Linked DNA regions of Homo sapiens: regions 2, 3 and 4 are each linked to region 1. Evidence: fine-mapped expression QTL. A gene starts in region 1. Each other region holds a variant in brackets. All regions are shown on one strand. Distances are from middle to middle.

Region 1 (4,469 bases):
CATGCCTGGCTTGTATTTTTTATAGAGACAGGTTTTCACCATGTTGCCCAGGCTGATCTCAAACTCCCAGGCTCAAGTGATTCGGCCAAAGTAAGATGCTTTTGTAATTTTTAGACAAAGAACAATAAATTTGAGAAGAAATAAGACAAAATCTGGCTAGGGATAGTAAATTTCTAGGGAAGTCACTAGGAGATATATGGGGGTGGGGGGTGTAAAACTAGTGGAAGATAAGGGTTACTTCCTTAAGTGTATTTATTCAGTTCCATTGCAGCCCCGTTTCCAGTCTCTGGTGATAAGGGCTTTTTGCCCTAGTATGGGGAGGGTACCCCTCTCAGAGGAATCTTTATGACTTGCTACATGCAAGAAGAGACAGGTCAGCTAGCCTTTTCTGAAACTACAATTTCTCCAATGCTTTCACCTCAAAATTAACAATATACCTATCGGACATATTCTGAGATGGCACATGACTCCTTCAAGGGTATTTCACACACATGCTAGGAAGTGAGGGGTTAAGTGTCCCTGTGTGCTTTTTCAGATACGTGGCTTCAGAGAGAGCAAGAAGGCTGAGGAGGATGAGGAGGGCAGGGTGAGGCTCTCTCCCCAGGCTGATGATCTCCTTTCCCTTGTCTTAGTACAAGCAAATGCTGGTGAATGCTTTCACGGAGCAAATTCTGCCTCACTTCTCCACGGAGGGCCCCCAACGTCTGCTGCCGGTTCTGGACAGAATCTACCCAGTGACCGAAATCCAGGAGGCCCATAAGTACATGGAGGCCAACAAGAACATAGGCAAGATCGTCCTGGAACTGCCCCAGTGAAGGAGGATGGGGCAGGACAGGACGCGGCCACCCCAGGCCTTTCCAGAGCAAACCTGGAGAAGATTCACAATAGACAGGCCAAGAAACCCGGTGCTTCCTCCAGAGCCGTTTAAAGCTGATATGAGGAAATAAAGAGTGAACTGGAAGGGTGGCACGCGGACTGGGGCCGCCGCGGCGGGGTTGAGGTGGGAGTCCGGACGGGCGTCGCAGCGGGGATTACTGAGGCCCGATCAGCTGACGCTCAACCTGAGGGCCCCTCCAGGGACGGAGATTCTGGGTATAGTTACAGCGTCAGCCGTGACACAAGCCGCCAGAACCCCACATATTCCGCCTTGCGCACAGCTAGAGGCCCAGGCCCACCACCTCCGGCACCTGCCCGCGCGCCCCGCAACCAGTGGGCACCACAGCAGGCCCCAGCCCTGCCCGCTACTCACCTGGGCCCCACCCCACCTCTCGCCGCCCTCCTCAGGCCCCACCACCTCCCGCTACACATCTGAGCCCCGCCCCACCTCCACCACTTTCCTCAGCCCCAACCACCTCCTGCTACACTTCTGGGCCCCGCCGCACCTCCACCACCCTCCTCAGGCCCCGATCCCTTCCGCTACTCACCTGGGTCCCGCCCCAGCTCAGTCCTCCTCAGGCCCCGCCTTCGCCCGCTACTCACCTGGGCCCCACCCCACCTCTCGCCACCCTCCTCAGGCCCCACCACCTCCCGCTACACATCTGGGCCCCGCCCCACCGCCACCACCCTCCTCAGGCCCCGCCCCTTCCATTACTCACTTGGGTCCCGCCCCAGCTCACCGCCTTGCTCAGGCCCGGCTCCCTCCCGGATACTCACTTGGGCCCCACCCCAGCTCTCCGCACCCTCCTCAGGCCCCGCCCCCTCCCGCTACTCACCTGGGTCCCGCCCTACCTGTCATAACCCTGCTCAAGCCCCGCCTCCTCCGCTCCCCAGTTACTCACCTGAGACCCGCCCCAGCTCTCCGCCCTCCTCAGGCCCCGCCCTCTCCACCCGGGTTCCTCTGCTCAGGGCCTCCCCGACCGGAACATCTCGCCTTTTGGAGGCTACGCCCCGCCCTTTACGGTACAGAGCCCGGAAGTGTCTTGGACTCTCGCCTTTCCATCTTCCGGCCTCGAGTCTCGCTCAGGCTCGGTTTTACCCCGGAGTCTATTCGAAGGGGGCTGCTACGTCAGCGCGTCTCAGCGTAAGACGGCGCTATTCCGCTGTAACAGCTTCCGGCGGGTCCTGGATGTTGATGTCCTGCATCTAACGCGGTGTAACCCCCGAAGCCGAGCGAGCTCCGGAGGAATTTCAGTATCTGCTACGGTAACTTCATCAGCCCGCCAAGATGGCGATGCAAGCGGCCAAGAGGGCGAACGTGAGTATCGGGTGTTCTGCGGAGGGTGGGAGAACTTCGGGTTTGACTTTCTTAGCGGCGTGGATCGGAGCATTCTTGCTCCTCCTCCGTCCCCAGAGCGGAGAACTCCAGAATTCCTATCCTGTCAGCGAAGACACTATCCGGCCCCATCCTCAGAGATATGCTCCTTGAGCCACATTTCTGTCCCCACCCCTTTTGAGAGTTCCTCAGTCTCTACCCTAGTGTCAGTGATAGTGTTACCCCTATAGCCTCTTTGCTTGACCCGCACCTAAGGACCTGGCGTTAGGATTATCTCCTTGACTTAAAGTCGATATCTCAGAAGAGTCCTCAACTAACTTAATGGTTCACCAACAACTAGGACCTGGGATTCCCCTCAGATCATGGTGCTTTTCGGATCCTTCATTAACACATTAATTAAAACAATATTTTTTGAGCACCTACTATGTATTCTGCTTGCCATGTGGGACATAATTCATCAATTATATTTATTGAATAGCTACTATGTGCCAGACACTAGTCTTACGTATTGGGAATACAGCAGTGAATAAAACAAGTCCTTCTGCTTACATTCTAGTGTTTGAGAGTACAGTGTTACGGAAACTTTTAAAAAAAAAAAACTCAAAAAAGAGATTAGTCAACAGTAAAACGCTTAGAGGTGTAAGATGAAGTTAGGCCGAGTGAGGTGGCTCATGCCTGTAATCCCCGCACTTTTGGAGGCTGAGGTGGGAGGATTGCTTGAGCCCAGGAATTCAAGGCTGCCTTGAGCCATGATTGTGCCACTGCGCAGCACTTCAGCCCAGGAGACAGAGCAAGACCCTGACTCAAAAAAAAAAAAAAAAACAGAAAGAAAGAAAGAAAGAAAGAAAAGACAAGCAATTGACCATTGTATATGTAAATGGAGACTTTTGGTGACCTTGATGATAGGAATCATTTCAGTGGATGAAAACTTGATTGCAGTGGGGTGAAAAGATGGTGGAAGTTGAGAAAATGGAAACAGCAAAGACACTCTGTCCATGAGTTCTCATTTAAATAGGAAGTAGGGAAATTGGATGATAGTTGACTTTTTTTTTTGAGATGGACTCTCACTCTGTCACCCAGGCTGGAGTGCAGTGGCACAGTCTTGGCTCACTGCAACCTCTGTCTCCTGAGTTCAAGCAATTCTCCTGCCTCAGCCTCTTGAGTAGCTGGGATTACAGGTGCCCACCACCATGCCCGGCTAATTTTTGTATTTTTAGTAGAGACAGGGTTTCTCCGTGTTGGCCAGGCTGGTCTCAAACTCCTGACCTCAAGTGATCCACCTGCCTTGGCCTCCCAAAACGCTGGGATTACAGGCATGAGCCACCGCACCCGGCCAGATAGTTGACTTTTTAAAAGATGTGTGATATAGGTGTATCTTTATGCCAATGGGAGCAATCCAGCAGAGTGTGCGAAACATGATATGGAAGAAAGATAGGTTGAGTTTAGAAGTGAAGGTTTTGAGTAGATGAAGGTTGGCGTAGTAATAGAGGGAAAGTAGTTGGATATAGATGAAAAGTATTTCAATTGGTCATGTCTATTTTCTCCAAGAAACAAGAATCAGGGTCATCTCCTGGGATGGGCAGGGAAGAGGGTACAGCCCAACTCAGGTGTTAGCAGGAGTGATGGTGGTAAGGTTTGCAAAGGCCTACACCCACCACCATGCCTGGCTAATTTTTTAAAATTTTTGTAGAGATGGGGGTCTCACTATGTTGTCCAGGCTGGTCTCAAACTCCTGGGCTCAAGTGATCCTCCCACTTTGCCTCCCAAAGTGCTGGGATTATAGGGACCAGCCACTGCACCCAGCCTCTGTTGCTTTTTCAAAGATCTGCCCATTTTCAGAAACATCAAATTATACCTCTTATTCTTGGCTTTTTATTATTACGTATCATTAAGAATTTTTTAAAATGCCCCTAATTATAGGGGCATTTAAATTATAATTTTTTAGAATGCCCCTAATTATAATAACAATACGTATTTCTCATTTTAGATTCGACTTCCACCTGAAGTAAATCGGATATTGTATATAAGAAATTTGCCATACAAAATCACAGCTGAAGAAATGTATGATATATTTGGGAAATATGGACCTATTCGTCAAATCAGAGTGTGAGTCTTACTGAGTCATTTAAAGAAAATGATAGCATAATCTGTAATTTCAGAATTATAGCTGACGATGAGGCCACCCTGTGCTGTGTGCAGTGCGACAACCCTTACCAAGAGCCTTGAGACTAGCAGATTGAGATCAGAGAGATGAGAT
Region 2 (4,469 bases), 480 kb after region 1:
AATGAACTTCCCTAACCCTCGGTTTTTTTTTATCTTAAAATGGGGATAATAATACCTGCCCTACAGGATTTGATGCAAAATATGTGCAAGGCACTTACTCATGCCTGGCAGGTAGTAAAGATTTAATAAATGCCAGGCATTATTACTGTGCCTCTTATTACCAACCTCTTAGGTACTCAGGCTGGTTATTATTTGTACCCAGGACACCGTTTCCAAACCCTTGAACTTCAGAGCGGCCCAGCCTCATCTCTCACTGACTTTCGGATGCCTCCAAGCCCTGCAGAACCAAGTGTTCCCTGGATGGGAAGGGGGCCTTACTCCTGGCACCAGCTCCAGAGGCATCCTGTGCATCTCTCCCACTGAGATGGAGGAGTGAGGGGGACCAGCCCAGAGGCCATGAACGGGCAGGGTTGCGGAAAGACCACAGGTCGGGGATGGGGACCAGGAAGATGCATCTTCTCTGCAGAAGAACCTACAAGAGCTCCCCATCTCCTTCCCTAGACTGAGAGCATGTCAGGGCTAGAAGGAACCTTACAGAGCCTCATTTTAGAGACGGGTGAACAGGGCCGGGCACGGTGGCTCATGCCTGTAATCCCAGCACTTTGGGAGGCCAAGGCGGGCAGATCACTTGAGGCCAGGAGTTCAAAACCAGTCTGGCCGACACGGTGAAACCCCGTCTCTACTAAAGATACAAAAGTTAGCTAAGCATGGTGGCACAATGCCTATAATCCCAGCTACTTGTGAGGCTGAGGCAGGAGAATCACTTGAACCTGGGAGGCAGAGGTTGCAGTGAGCCAAGATTGTGCCACTGCACTCCAGCCTGGGTGACAGAGCGAGACTCTGTCTCAGAAAAAAAAAAAAAAAAAAAAAAAAAAAAAAAATATATATATATATATATATATATACACACACACACATATATATATACATACACATATACATACACACACACACACACACACACACACACACACACACATATATATATATATGAGAGAGAGAGAGATAGATTGAGAGCGAGATGGGTGAACAGACACGTAGCAAGTTTGCAACCTGGCCCAGAGGAAACAATGCCCTCATCAGACTCTTCCCAGAGATGTGACCTCAATCTCTCTACCTATTATATTGGAAAAATGATAAGCAAATGCCTGCCTAATTGTACCTTTTTAAAAGACAGTCTTCCCTGAACACTTATAAAATATGTGGGCCTGGGTTTCAGAGAGAGCTTGTCCCCCAAAAGCAGAGCCCTCTATATAAAGCAGCAAGCGATCCAGCTCTGAAAAGTATTTTGCTTCTCTTTTCAGTGGGAAGAGACTTCACCATTAGCTCTATTTGATTCTAAACGCAGCCCTGAGCTTTCCTGTATCCCCAGGCACCTATCTGGCTGGGACCACTCCAGAAGTAGCACTTACATGAGTGCCATGAGTAAGAAGGAGGAAAATCTGAAAAATGGGTAAAGTATGTACCAGGAATCCCTTATTTATTTATGTCCTCCTGGGGGAACCTGTTTCTGAGATGAAGAAAATAATTTCGCCGTTGTGTGTAAGAGATGGCTCTGCCCCAGCATCGGAGTCTTCCTATCGCCCTCATTTAGAGGGAGATGCTTGCAGGATAGGGGTTAAAGGCGTGCTAAAGAGGCACATTCCCACGATGGCAGCATACGTCCCCAGACATGATGTGTTCCCGCCAGCACAATCTCATCTTCCATTATGGAGAAGGATGACTCAGCGTGAGGTCTATTTTCTGTTTAGACTTAAGCCACGTTGTGTGCAAGGACAGTGTGGCATGGCCCCTGATAAATCACAGCGAGCCTCCTAGTGACTCTGTTCTGCTCCAACGTGAGTGCGCTTATGAAACGGGTTCCTTCCTCTCCCCTGGGATGCAGCCACCAGGACACCAAGACCTCTGCTCGGAGACAGAGACTCATAGGGGCGTGTTGGTAGCTGAAGCCTGGAGGAGAACTCAAGAAAACCCTTGCAAAATGAGGTGGGCATGATTTAAATCCACTACATTTTTAATCTGCCAACAACCCTAAGGGATAGGGCTGCAGCTGCCTGGCAGGGTCAAAGCAGATGGCAGCAGGGTACAAGGCTGTTGCCCTGCCCCGCCCCCGGCCTGCCCGTCCGGCTGGCTGCCGAGGGTGCTCTATTGTATGCGGCTCAGTTCAAACCACCAACAGACCCAGCTTCTCCATGGCAACCCCAAGCAGGCCGTGCATTCCAGAGGCTATGCTGGCAGCAAATGTGGACCCAATGCCACAAAACGGTGTCCTCCTGACAAACCACGGGGAGTGTGAAAACCTTCTGGAATGCTTCTGAGGAAGAAGCCCGCCCAGGACTAGCTGGGGATGGGATGGGGATGCAGGAGAGTGATTTACAGACAGGGAGTCATGGTGTCTGGAAGGGGCATGCTGCTTGCGTGGGGAGCTCACAATTCACTGGCCTAGCAGCCACCCTGGGAGAGCTGGGATCCTGGTGGAGAGACAGCATGGGAAGGGATGGAGGAGGACCTGCAGAGGGCAGTCTGCAAGATTTGGTGGCTCCAGGGTGTCCAGATGGAGTCCCCTGGCTGTGTGTTGGGGACACTGCCTCCTAGGAGGTCACGTCCTCTGCCCCCCAAGTGACCAGGACACT[G/T]CTCCCCTCTACTTGCACCCACACAGTCACACCACAGCCTGGCAGTGCCCGCTGCCTGCCACCCTTCCTGCCCACTCCTTCTCTGCGTCCATCTCTCATCCTTCTACTGCTGACTGTACCTCTGCCAGTGTCCAGCCCCAGGCCTGTGCAGAGACATCTGCCCACCTTCCCAAGCCTTGGCACAGAGAGGGCAGGTAGGAGAACAAAGGGCTATGCCTTGGGTCAGGAATATCAGCATTTGAACCTGTCACTTGGGTTTGAGTGATCTTGGGCAAGTTAGTTAACATGCTGGGACCTCAGTTCCCTTCTCTGTAAAACAGAGACAAAAATGCTGGCTTTGGTAGGGTTTTGTGGGAGAAACGGGATAGGATTATAATACATGGAAAGGCAAATGACGTTGCAGGAAAGAAGGGTTCCTTCCCCTCTCCTTTCCACACCCCACAGCCACTTCCCACACCCCACAGCCCCTTCCCTTCCCAGGCCCTCTGCGGGTGCCTCTTTCTGGGCGCCTGCAACAGAGAACCAAAGTTAGGAAAAGTGATCCTCCAGAAATGGACAGAGAAGTCCACCAGGATATTCCAAACACTCCGTCTCTGTTGTGGTAAACGATGACTTTAATTTACAAAGCACACGAATACTAAATCTTCATGAAATTAAAAACTATATTATTTATGTGAGCGGAAACGGAAAATGGTCTGTAGCTAGCAGCTATCCTGCTTTGTAGGAGGAACACTAAAATAATTAAAACCACTCGTGCTTCAGTAATAAATAATGATAATAAATAAATGTCCTGACCTTAAGCAAAAATATAAAATTAAAACCCATTTGGTATGTAAATTCATTCAGGACACTAGTGTGTCTCCCAGCCCAAGATGATGTAGAATGGGAGCAGCATTCACTACATGAATTTTGAAAGGAAAAGTCAAAGAACAACAGAGTTGTGTGTGCATTGACTCATTATTCTACTTTAATTCCATCTAATGCTTTGTGGAGCCTGGAGGCTGGGACATTAATTTCCTGCTTTTTCTGTTTCACCAATTCCTCATGGAGACCAGGAGAAAGAATTTCAATCCTGGAGGCTGAAATCAGGGGACAGAGAAAACGGCAGGAGAGATGGAGAATTGAAATGCAGGAAGGCCATTTTTAATGTGTTTACAGAAACACGGTGAAAAGAAGTCAGCGAAGAAGGGCACTGGTGTTGGCCGGGGGTGAGCTCCTGAGTGTCTGGGATTAGAACAATCCAGGAGGAACGAAATGTCCCTGGTCTTGGGTCCAGGTGGGAGCCATTCCAGAGCCCGGAGGAGCCGGGCAGGAAGTCTGCGGGCGCCTCAGACTTCAGGAAAACGCGAATTGGTTCCAGATGGTGACACCTCCACCTCTGAGTGCCCGGCTTTACCATGAAATCGCTGCATGTTCCATGAAGCCAGCGACTCCCCGGAGCACTCCCAAATAAGGCCGGTCTGGTAAACAAGGCAACGCGCCAGGCAGAGAAAACAGAACCTTCCCACCTCTGCTGTATAATCAACTCCTCGACACCCCTGTCATTAAATCCCCTCCTCCAAGGGCTGCCACACCCAGCCTTTCATTTCAGTCTCATAACTACCTTGTGAAGTGGACGAGGAAGAGATGGTTATTCCTGTTTGATAGGCAGGGAAACTGAGGCACAAGGGCTCACAGAGAAGACATGGCAGGGAAATGATCAGACCCTTCTCCCAGGCCCGGGCTCTGTGTAATCAGGGAGGGAGGGGCCCTGAAGGAAAAGCTTGTGGACAACAAGCACGTAGGCGACACGCCTGGCCACAGGGTGCCCTGGCCCTCCCACCTCTTATGTGTAAA
Region 3 (4,469 bases), 34 kb after region 1:
CAAGCCGCTGCAGAACCACTGAATCTGACATCATATATAAAAGCATAATAGACCCTTTTTTTTTTTAAGTGAAAGATCCTAAGAGCAAGGACAAAGCTAGCAAGGAGATATGCGAAATAATTTACAGATAAGCAAATCACCAGGTTGGTAGAGAATACATTTCATTGGATTTAGAGTCTGAAGACAACTTCTCAAGTTCTGCCTTTGACACTTACTCAGTAAAACAAGGCTGAAAAATGTCATTTAGATTCAGTGACAGGGAAGCACTGGTGGCCTGGTGAGAGATGTTTTGGAGAAGAAATTGGAATGGAATTCATTTTAAGTATATTAAGAAGAGAGTGAGTGGTGAAAAATATGAGTACTGCCAGTTTACACAACTATTTGATAACTAATAAGGTTAAACATCACTTTATATATGTTTGTAGATTGTTGGGGGGTTTTTTGTTTTGTTTTGTTTTGTTTTAAGTAGAGACAGTATCTTGCTGTGTTGTCCAGGCTGATCTCTGGTCTCGAACTCCAGGGCTCAAGTGATCCTTCTGCCTTGGCCTCCTAAATTGTTGGGATTACAGGCATGAGCCACTGTGCCTGGCCAACAGTCATTTTGTTTAGTTTTGTTTTTGAGACCGAGTCTCACTCTGTTGTCCAGGCTACAGTGCAGTGGTGCCATCTTGGCTTACCGTAACATCTGCCTCCCAGGTTCAAGCAATTCTCGTGTCTCAGCCTCCCAAGTAGCTGGGATTACAGGAGTGTGCCATCACTCCTGGCTAATTTTTTTGTATTTTTAGTAGAGACGAGGTTTCGCCATGTTGGCCAGGCTGATCTCGAAATCCTGACCTCAGGTGATCCACCCGCCTTGGCCTGCCAAAGTGCTCGGATTAAAGGCATGAGCCACCTGGCCCAGTAATTTTTTTTTTTTTTTTTGAGACGGAGTTTCACTCTTTTTGCCCAGGCTGGAGTGTAATGGCATGATCTCAGCTCACTGCAACCTCCGCCTCCTGGGTTCAAGTGATTCTCCTGCCTCAGCCTCCTGAGTAGCTGGAATTACAGGCATGTGCCACCACGCCCAGCTAATTTTGTATTTTTAGTAGAGACGGGGTTTCTCCATGTTGGTCAGGCTGGTCTCGAACTCCTGATGGTCAGGTGATCTGCCCGCCTCGGCCTCCCAAAATGCTAGGATTACAGGCGTGAGCCGCCGCGCCTGGCTCTGGCCCAGTAATTGTTTTTATACTAAATTTTTTTTTTTTTGAGACAGAGTTTCACTCTTGTTGCCCAGGCTGGAGTGCCATGGCACGATCTCGGCTCACTGCAACCTCCACCTCCCGGGTTCAAGCGATTCTCCTGCCTCAGCCTCCTGAGTAGCTGGGATTACAGGCATGCGCCACCACAGCCAGCTAATTTTTTTTTTTTTTTTTTTTTTTTGAGACGGAGTATTGCTCTGTCACCCAGGCTGGAGTGCAGTGGTGCGATCTCGATTCACTGCAACCTCTGCCTCCAGGGTTCACGCCATTCTCCTGCCTCAGCCTTCCGAGTAGCTGGGACTACAGGCGCCCGCCAACACACCTGGCTAATTTTTGTATTTTTAGTAGAGACAGGGTTTCACCGTGTTAGCCAGGATGGTCTCGATCTCCTGACCTCGTGATCCGCCTGCCTCGGCCTCCCAAAGTGCTGGGATTACAGGCGTGAGCCACTGCGCCCGGCCAATTTTTTGTATTTTTAGTAGAGATGGGGTTTCTCCACGTTGGTCAGGCTGGTTTTGAGCTCCTGACCTCACGTGATCTGCCCTTCTCGGGCTCCCAAAGTGCTGGGATTACAGGCGTGAGCTGCCACACCCAG[G/C]CTTTATACTAAAATTAGTCTTTCTCAGTCTGTGTTTATTATTGCAACATTTTATTCTTATATCCATTATTATATATTTATGTATCCACTGATTGATAGTATTTCAAAATATAATTTTCCTGAGGCAGTTTTTCATTTTACATTAAATAGTATTTTTTATGTTTATATTTCAAAGTGAGTATTCAGGTATTACAGCTTATCCAAATAATGTCCTTATTCTCCCTACTGACTATATGTATCTTTTTTTTTTTTTTTTTTTTTTTGAGACAGAGTTTCACTTTTGTTGCCCAGGCTGGAGTGCAGTGGCGCCATCTGAGCTCACTGCAACCTCCGCCTCCCCTCCCAGGTTCAAGCAATTGTCCAGCCTCAGCCTCCCGAGTAGCTGGGATTACAGGCACCTGCCACCGAGCCCAGCTAATTTTTGTATTTTGAGTAGAGATGGGGTTTCACCATGTTGGCCAGGCTGGTCTCGAACTCCTGACCTCAGGTAATCTGCCTGCCTGGGCCTCCCAAAGTGCTGGGATTACACTTTGGGTGTAATGGGTGTAAGTGCTGGGTGGCTCATGCCTATGAGCCACCATGCCTGGCTACCCCATTTTTTGTTTAAAAGAAAAGCCATAACATGTAAAATCCTATATATCTTTGTGTCTTTCTTTAACATTTTCAGAGGCTAAACACCAAATTGTTAATGATGCTTTTATCAAGGCTTTGAAATGTTGGAAAGGAGGAGGAGCTAAAGGGGCTGGCACTGAGTAGGAGGGAACAGTTTTTTTTTTTTTTTGGAGATAGAGTTTTGCTCCTGTCGCCCAGGCTGAAGTGCAATGGTGCAATTTTGGCTCACTGTAATCTCTACCTCCTGGGTTCAAGTGATTCTCCTGCCTCAGCCTCCTGAGTAGCTGGGATTACAGGCATGCGCCACCATGCCCGGCTAATTTTTGTATTATTATTAGAAACAGGGTTACACCATGTTGGCCAGGCTGGTCTCAAACTCCTGACCTCAGGTGATCCACCCGCCTCAGCCTCCCAAAGTGCTGGGATTACAAGCATGAGCCACCGTGCCCAGCCTAAGCATGTACTTGTTTTTTGTTGTTGTTGTTTCTTTTTTGAGGTGGAGTTTCGCTGTTGTTACCCAGGCTGGAGTGCAATGGCACGATCTCAGCTCACTGTAGCCTCTGCCTCCCCAGTTCAAACGATTCTCCTGCCTCAGCCTTCTAAGTAGCTGGGAGTATAGGCATGCACCACCACACTTGGCTAATTTTGTATTTTTAGTAGAGATGGGGTTTCTGCATGTTGGTCAGGCTGGGATCGAACTCCCAACCTCAGGTGATCCTCCCGTCTCAGCCTCCCAAAGTACTGGGATTATAGGCGTGAGTCACCACGCCCAGCCCTAAGCATATGCTTCTTTAGTGATTCAAATGCCTGGGGGAAAAATATTCAGGGTGAAAAAATGAAGATAATACTTGCCTAACCTACTTTACATTATTTTAAAAGATTATTGTAAGATAAAATGCAATAGGGAATGTGAAAATGTTCTGAAAATTATTAAGTGCTGTTGAATAAGATGAAGTAGAAGTAGAAATAGAAACAGTGATTTTTGAGTGTCATTTCAATAGAGGGATAAAAGCCACTTTGGAAGGATTTGAAATAAGTGCTAATAAAGTCAGAGATGTGCATATCAGTTATTCATTGATTTGGCAGTGAAAGGACGAATAGAAATTAGATGATGGAGGAGACTTTTCTTAAATTTTTAATTGGAAAATTTTCTAACTTAAAAGTTGAAAGTACCATAAATACTAACATAGCCTCAATCTAGACTCTACAATTATTAACATTTTGCTACATTTGTTTTCTTTCTGTGTGTCTATAGAAAATTTGGGTTTTTTTTGTCAAACCATTTGAAAGCACATTGTAGGCATCATGACATTTTACCCCAAGTGCTTCAACATGCTTATTTAAATAATAAGGACCTTGTCCTGCATAACCACAATACCATGTTCACACTTAAGAAAATTAATAACTCTGGCCGGGCGCGGGAGCTCATGCCTATAATCCCAGCACTTTGGGAGGCTGAGGTGGGTGGATTGCCTGAGGTCAGGAGTTTGAGACCAGCCTGGCCAACATAGTGAAACCCCGTCTCTACTAAAAATAAAAAAAAAATTAGCTGGGCCTGGTGGCAGGCACCTGTAATCCCAGCTACTCTGGAGGCTGAGGCAGAAGAATCGCTTGAACCCAGGAGGCAGAGGTTGAAGTGCGCCGAGATTGTGCCATTGCACTTCAGCCTGAGCAACAAGAGTGAGACTCCGTCTCAAAAAAAAAAAGAAGAAAAATAATAACTCTACAATATTTTCTGATATCCATTCCATACTCAGATTTCCCCAGTTCTAAAAATCTTCATTAGGTAGAAGATTTTATTTCTTCAAGATCCAAAGTATATACATTGCATTTGCCTGATAGCTCAGTAGTCTCTTAATTTATAATACTCCCCCTGTCCTTTTGTCTCTCCACATTATTAACCTGGGAAGGGGCTAAGCCGTTGTCTTACCAAATGTCCTACATTCTAGATTTGTCTAGATTTCTCATGGTGTAACTTTCCTTCTTAATCATTTCAGGTAACCTTTATCAAAAGGATGGAGTTG
Region 4 (4,469 bases), 530 kb after region 1:
CCCCAGGAGCAGTGTAGCCGGGGCCTAATCACCCCATACTCCAGGGCCTCCTGCCTAGAGGAAGTGCCTGGCAAATTTCACTATGAAATCAGAGATGGAGATGCCAGCACCCCCTTTCGCTTACCACGAGGTGGTGCCTGCATCTCTCTCCACACCCCTGAGCTCTGCGGGTGTCAGCCTCCTGGCCTGGGGACACCCCACCCCGAGGACGCCAAGCCTTCCTTACCCAGCTGCAAACAGGCAGCAGAAAGGGGAAGCAGGGAGCATTTACGGAGCACCGACAGCATGCCTGCTACTCTGCAAGTCACTTAAACTGCGTGTGTCATAGCACTGCCTCCACTTTATAGAAGGGGAAACTGAGGCTCAGTGATGCGGTGGCTTGCTCAAGGCCACTTGGGGGAAGTGGTGGTGCTTGGAAGGAGGCTCTTGTGCCCGACTCTGAAGCCAGTGCTCTTCTTTCTCTATCTTTTCCTGGACTCATGACCAGCCCTGGCCTGCAGACCTTTCGTCTCTCACTCACAAATGCTTCTTATACATTCAGCCTCCTCGGCTGGCAGCTGTGTTTCCTCCTAACACCAACCACTTCTTCCCACGTCCACCCTGGCCTGGGCCTCTGTCATCTCTCAGCTGGATTTCTGCCACAGCCTCCTAAACACGTCTCCTTCCTTCCTTCCTCACCCTCATTCAGAGTATTCTCCACCCAGCAGCCAGAGTGATCCTGTTAAAACACAAGCCAGATCATCTCTCCCAAGTCCCTGCAATGGCTCCCATCCTACCCTAAGAAAAAGCCAAAGGCCTTCTTCTTAAGACCCATGAGGCCCTGGTGCTCACTCCCCTCTCTTGTTTGGTCTCCCCCTGCCCCTCTGTTCCAACATGCTGGCCTCCTTGCAGCGGCTCCATCACTTTAGGCCCCATTCTACCTCAGGACCTTTGCACACACTGCTCCCTGTGCCGGGCCCATCCTCCCCACTATCCACACGGCCAGCGTTCTTATTGCCTTCCAGCCTCTTCTCAAATGTTGCCTTCTCAGTGAGGCCTTCTCTGCCCATCCTATTGTAAAATGGCAACTTCTTTCTCTGCTTTCTTTCCCGCTCACTCTCATTGCCTTCTCTTGGCCTATATAGTTTACTTACTTAGATTTCTGTGTGTCCCCTCTCTGGAGTGTGAGTTCCCTAAGGGCAGTGCTTCTAAACACAGACTCATTTAATCTACATAACAATTCTGTGAGGCAGCTGTTCCGATGGCTATCTCCATCTTCCAGATTAGGAAACTGAGGCACAGAAAGCTCAAGCAATTGGCCCAAAGTCTCCCAGCTAGAAAGTGGCAGAGGAGGATTCACGCCCAGGCAGCGCAGCCCCGGAGACCTGCTCTCAGGCACCACAGTCTCCACCTGCCAGCTCGGTTCAATGCTGTATCTTGGCCCAGGCAATACCCGGCCTCTGGTAGGGCTCCGTAAATAACGAGTGAATGAAGCACGCTGCAATCCCACATCACCGTGGTTCTCGTGCCCGTCTTCTCTCCCCACAGACGGGCAAGATCCTGGACTCAGGCCTGTTCTTCCCTCCTTCCCTGCCCCACCCACCAGACTGCCCCTATCTGATGGGGGCAGCATCAGTCAGGTTATGTCAAAGAAATGAATTATTCCCCTGGGTCTTAAAGCGGTTGCTTTTGCCAGCGGCCATGGGGAAGGGGCAGTTCAGGCCAGTTGCACAAATGTCTCCTACTCTCCCTGTCCAGCAAGCCCCGACCCAGAGCCCTGGAGAGTCCACCTGGTGGACCTGGGAGATGACATCACCAGCC[C/T]GGGGTGGGCAGGCTTGCCAGTTCCCCCAGCCCCAAGCATCCTATTCATAATGCACCAGCATCTGGAGTGGTGGAGGGAGCAGCCAGCTCTCCCCCAGGAGCGTACACATCCACGACGCAATTCCTCCGAGGAAAATTACTCAGGCAGCCATTTATTAAAACACAACTGCTCCCGAGGAGGCCTTTCGGCAGTGGAAATACCAAATAGCTTTGAAGCTCCAGCCGTCCCAGAAACCGATGGAGCAGGCTCCTAGGCACTATCTGACTTCTAATCTGCTTGTTCTTTCCCCCATCTGGAAGGTCTAATGAAACGTTACACTGCAAGGAAACACGGAAATCAGTAACTTCAGAGGGCAGGGACATAGATTTCATTTCTTGCCTTGGTCTGCTATTTGCATAAACCTCAAGGGAATATCCGGGAGAAGAAACAAGAAAAATAACAATATCCCCCTACCTACTGGGGGTCAGGCACTGTGCTTGAAGAATGATGACATTTTACATTTAACCCTCCCGCACATCCCGGGGAGGGACTTTTCATCACCATCTCTGTGGCAGAGGTCGCCGGCGCTGCCCATGTCTGTGCCCTCCTCTTTCTTGGGGACCACAGCTGGACAACACTCTCCAGCTCCCCTTTGATTCTAGCTGGAGCCGTGTAATGAGTTCTTGCCGACATGTGCAGAATGTGTGTGCGAGTGACTCGGGTCCCTCTAGACCATGTGGTTAGAGCAGAGATGTCTTCTTCATCTCTCTTTCCCTGTCCACTGCAGAGGAGGATGAGGCGCAGACGGCAGGGACACACTGCACAAGGAGGCTTGGTTCTTCTCGGGCTCCTGGAGCAGAGCTGCTTCTCACTGACCCATCCCACACCGTGACTTGAGAAGGAAGCTACATGATTAAGCCACTACAGTTTGGGGTGGTTTGTTCCAATAGTTAGCCTGCCCCGACTAATGCAATCTTAATTTCCCAGGGGAGGAAGCAGAAGCTCAGACAGTTGGGAGTGACTTGCCCAAGGTCACAAAGAGCCTGGATCCAATGCAGCAGGAGCTGCCTGAGTGGTAACTAGACCTGGTTCCTTCCCCAGGTGTCCCTGGTGAAAGGCCCAGGTGGCTGCTATGAGATCATCTTCCAGGTTCAACTCCCCGGGGCTGAGCAACTTGTAGTTGGTCCAGGTGAGGCTCTCTGAGGGTTCAGGCAGAAGCCTGCCCCTCCTCTGCAAGAACGATCTCTCTCTGGCCTCCACCCTGGGGAGAGAATGCAGGAAGGACAGTGGCTGGATGCTGGCTCCCTGGAGACTGTCCCCTTCCAAATGCCTGACAAGCCCCGAGGATGGCATGTGCTTTGCAGAAAAGGTCAACTCCAGAAAGTAGGAGACTCAGCAATTCCCCAAATAGCCAAACCCTGAACGCGGGCTGTCCCCATCAGAGCACACATGCCCCATGGAAACAGAACAAGAGATAGAGGGAGAGAACCAGAGACACCAAGGTGGGAGAGCTTCCCCAGCAGACCTGGTTATAGCCAACTGGTGAACCCCTGTGCAGATGGAGCCCTCTCATCTGCACAAGCCTCCCTAGGCATCCAATTTTCCAGGCAGGTGGGTCTACTGGGACTAAAGTAAGTCCTCTAAATGCCTAACTCATTTTTGTTCCTTAACAAATACATGTACCGAAAAAGATGCAATTGAAGAGAGGAAGGGAACAGTATTAACCAGGGAAGAAATATAATTGCTAAATTCTGAGAGGCTATTTTAGACAAGAGATCAAAGGGTTGGAAATTAAAAGAAAACAAAACACTGCCACCACCCTGGTTGCCTGACTCAGCCCTTTAGACTTCTTAATGCCATTTCCCAAGGCCATCAGTATGACGACAATGACTTAACAACAGGCAGCACACAGCCCAACCCCTCCCAGGAGAGCTAATTACTTCCCAGGATTAATTCTTCAGTTTTCTAGACAGTTTGAGCAGCTGCACCACTACGGCCATTGCCAGAAACAAGAGCTTCTGGATGGAAGACACACCTACTGTTTCCCAGGATCTGGACTTGGGGCCTCAATCCACAAATCATCTCACACAAGAAGGCACCAGCCCTGCTGCTGTCCACTGGGAGCACCAGTTTTATGGTTTTTTTTTTTTTGTTTTTTGGGTTGGGCTTTTTTAAAAGCTCTTTAAAAAATCCTGTTTTCGATTGCGAGGGACTTGAGAAAGAACGGTGAATGCACTGTGTCCGAGACCAGCAATCTGGGAAGGGTTGCTGCCTCTGACACCCAGATGAGATCACCCTGCATTGCTGGTTAGCTCCTGTCTTACCTTCCAGCTACAACAAAGAGATGCACAGAGCTGCCGCTCACTTTCAGCCCACCAGCCAGCCCTGGCCAGGCACTCAGCACTGTGCTGGGGCTGTGAGTGCTGGCAGAGATGGATTTGGCTGAGGACTGCCCTCAAGGAGCCCATGGTCTGGCAGGGCTGAACCAATCCTCAAGAAGATCTGAGACCATAAGACAGGCAGAGGCTTCTGATGAGCATGGAAGGAAGCCCCTTGAGTTCTGGAGCCCGGTTCTCTCCTCTGGCCTTCTCCATAGCTAGGCATATAACTGCCCATCTTCTGTCCATCTACTTATCCATCCATCCATCCATCTACCCGTGCATCCACCCATGCATCCATCCATTCACGT

Which allele goes with the higher level. Alleles are on the strand shown, and positions count from the first base shown. SD is a standard deviation of normalised expression in the study named. Not every link is listed here.
For the expression in monocytes after interferon gamma of the gene that starts at base 2,068 in region 1, allele T in region 2 goes with a lower level than allele G (moderate effect, 0.64 SD a copy in Fairfax 2014).
For the expression in monocytes of the gene that starts at base 2,068 in region 1, allele C in region 4 goes with a higher level than allele T (moderate effect, 0.51 SD a copy in Fairfax 2014).

What was found. PIP is the estimated chance that this variant, and not a neighbour inherited with it, causes the effect.
Region 2: its variant is the best candidate, but not a certain one, in a credible set for the expression of SF3B6 in monocytes after interferon gamma (Fairfax 2014, PIP 0.69).
Region 3: its variant is the best candidate, but not a certain one, in a credible set for the expression of SF3B6 in whole blood (INTERVAL, PIP 0.81).
Region 4: its variant is the best candidate, but not a certain one, in a credible set for the expression of SF3B6 in monocytes (Fairfax 2014, PIP 0.50).

The regions. Positions count from the first base shown.
Region 1 is chr2:24,073,925-24,078,393 of GRCh38, reverse strand. SF3B6 (splicing factor 3b subunit 6) reads left to right here and starts at 2,068. Exons shown (of 4, transcript NM_016047.4): 1 at 2,068-2,194; 2 at 4,200-4,318. The coding sequence starts at 2,165. It overlaps TP53I3 (tumor protein p53 inducible protein 3), which reads left to right. Exons shown (of 5, transcript NM_004881.5): 5 at 633-961. The coding sequence ends at 815. It also overlaps a transcript of FAM228B not described here. RefSeq lists a silencer at 1,194-1,843 and enhancers at 1,954-2,183, 1,718-2,249, 2,250-2,782.
Region 2 is chr2:23,593,820-23,598,288 of GRCh38, reverse strand. The region is part of intron 3 of KLHL29 (kelch like family member 29); the gene reads right to left. Among named protein-coding and RNA genes, the nearest start is that of LINC02923, 210 kb to the right of the region's middle. The variant G/T (reference allele first, on the strand shown) is at 2,634.
Region 3 is chr2:24,039,486-24,043,954 of GRCh38, reverse strand. WDCP (WD repeat and coiled coil containing) reads left to right here. Exons shown (of 4, transcript NM_025203.3): 2 at 4,443-4,469. The coding sequence starts at 4,461. It also overlaps a transcript of FKBP1B not described here. Among named protein-coding and RNA genes, the nearest start is that of WDCP, 5.7 kb to the left of the region's middle. The variant G/C (reference allele first, on the strand shown) is at 1,834.
Region 4 is chr2:23,541,235-23,545,703 of GRCh38, reverse strand. All of the region lies in intron 2 of KLHL29 (kelch like family member 29), which reads right to left. Among named protein-coding and RNA genes, the nearest start is that of LINC02923, 160 kb to the right of the region's middle. RefSeq lists an enhancer at 1-439. The variant C/T (reference allele first, on the strand shown) is at 1,801.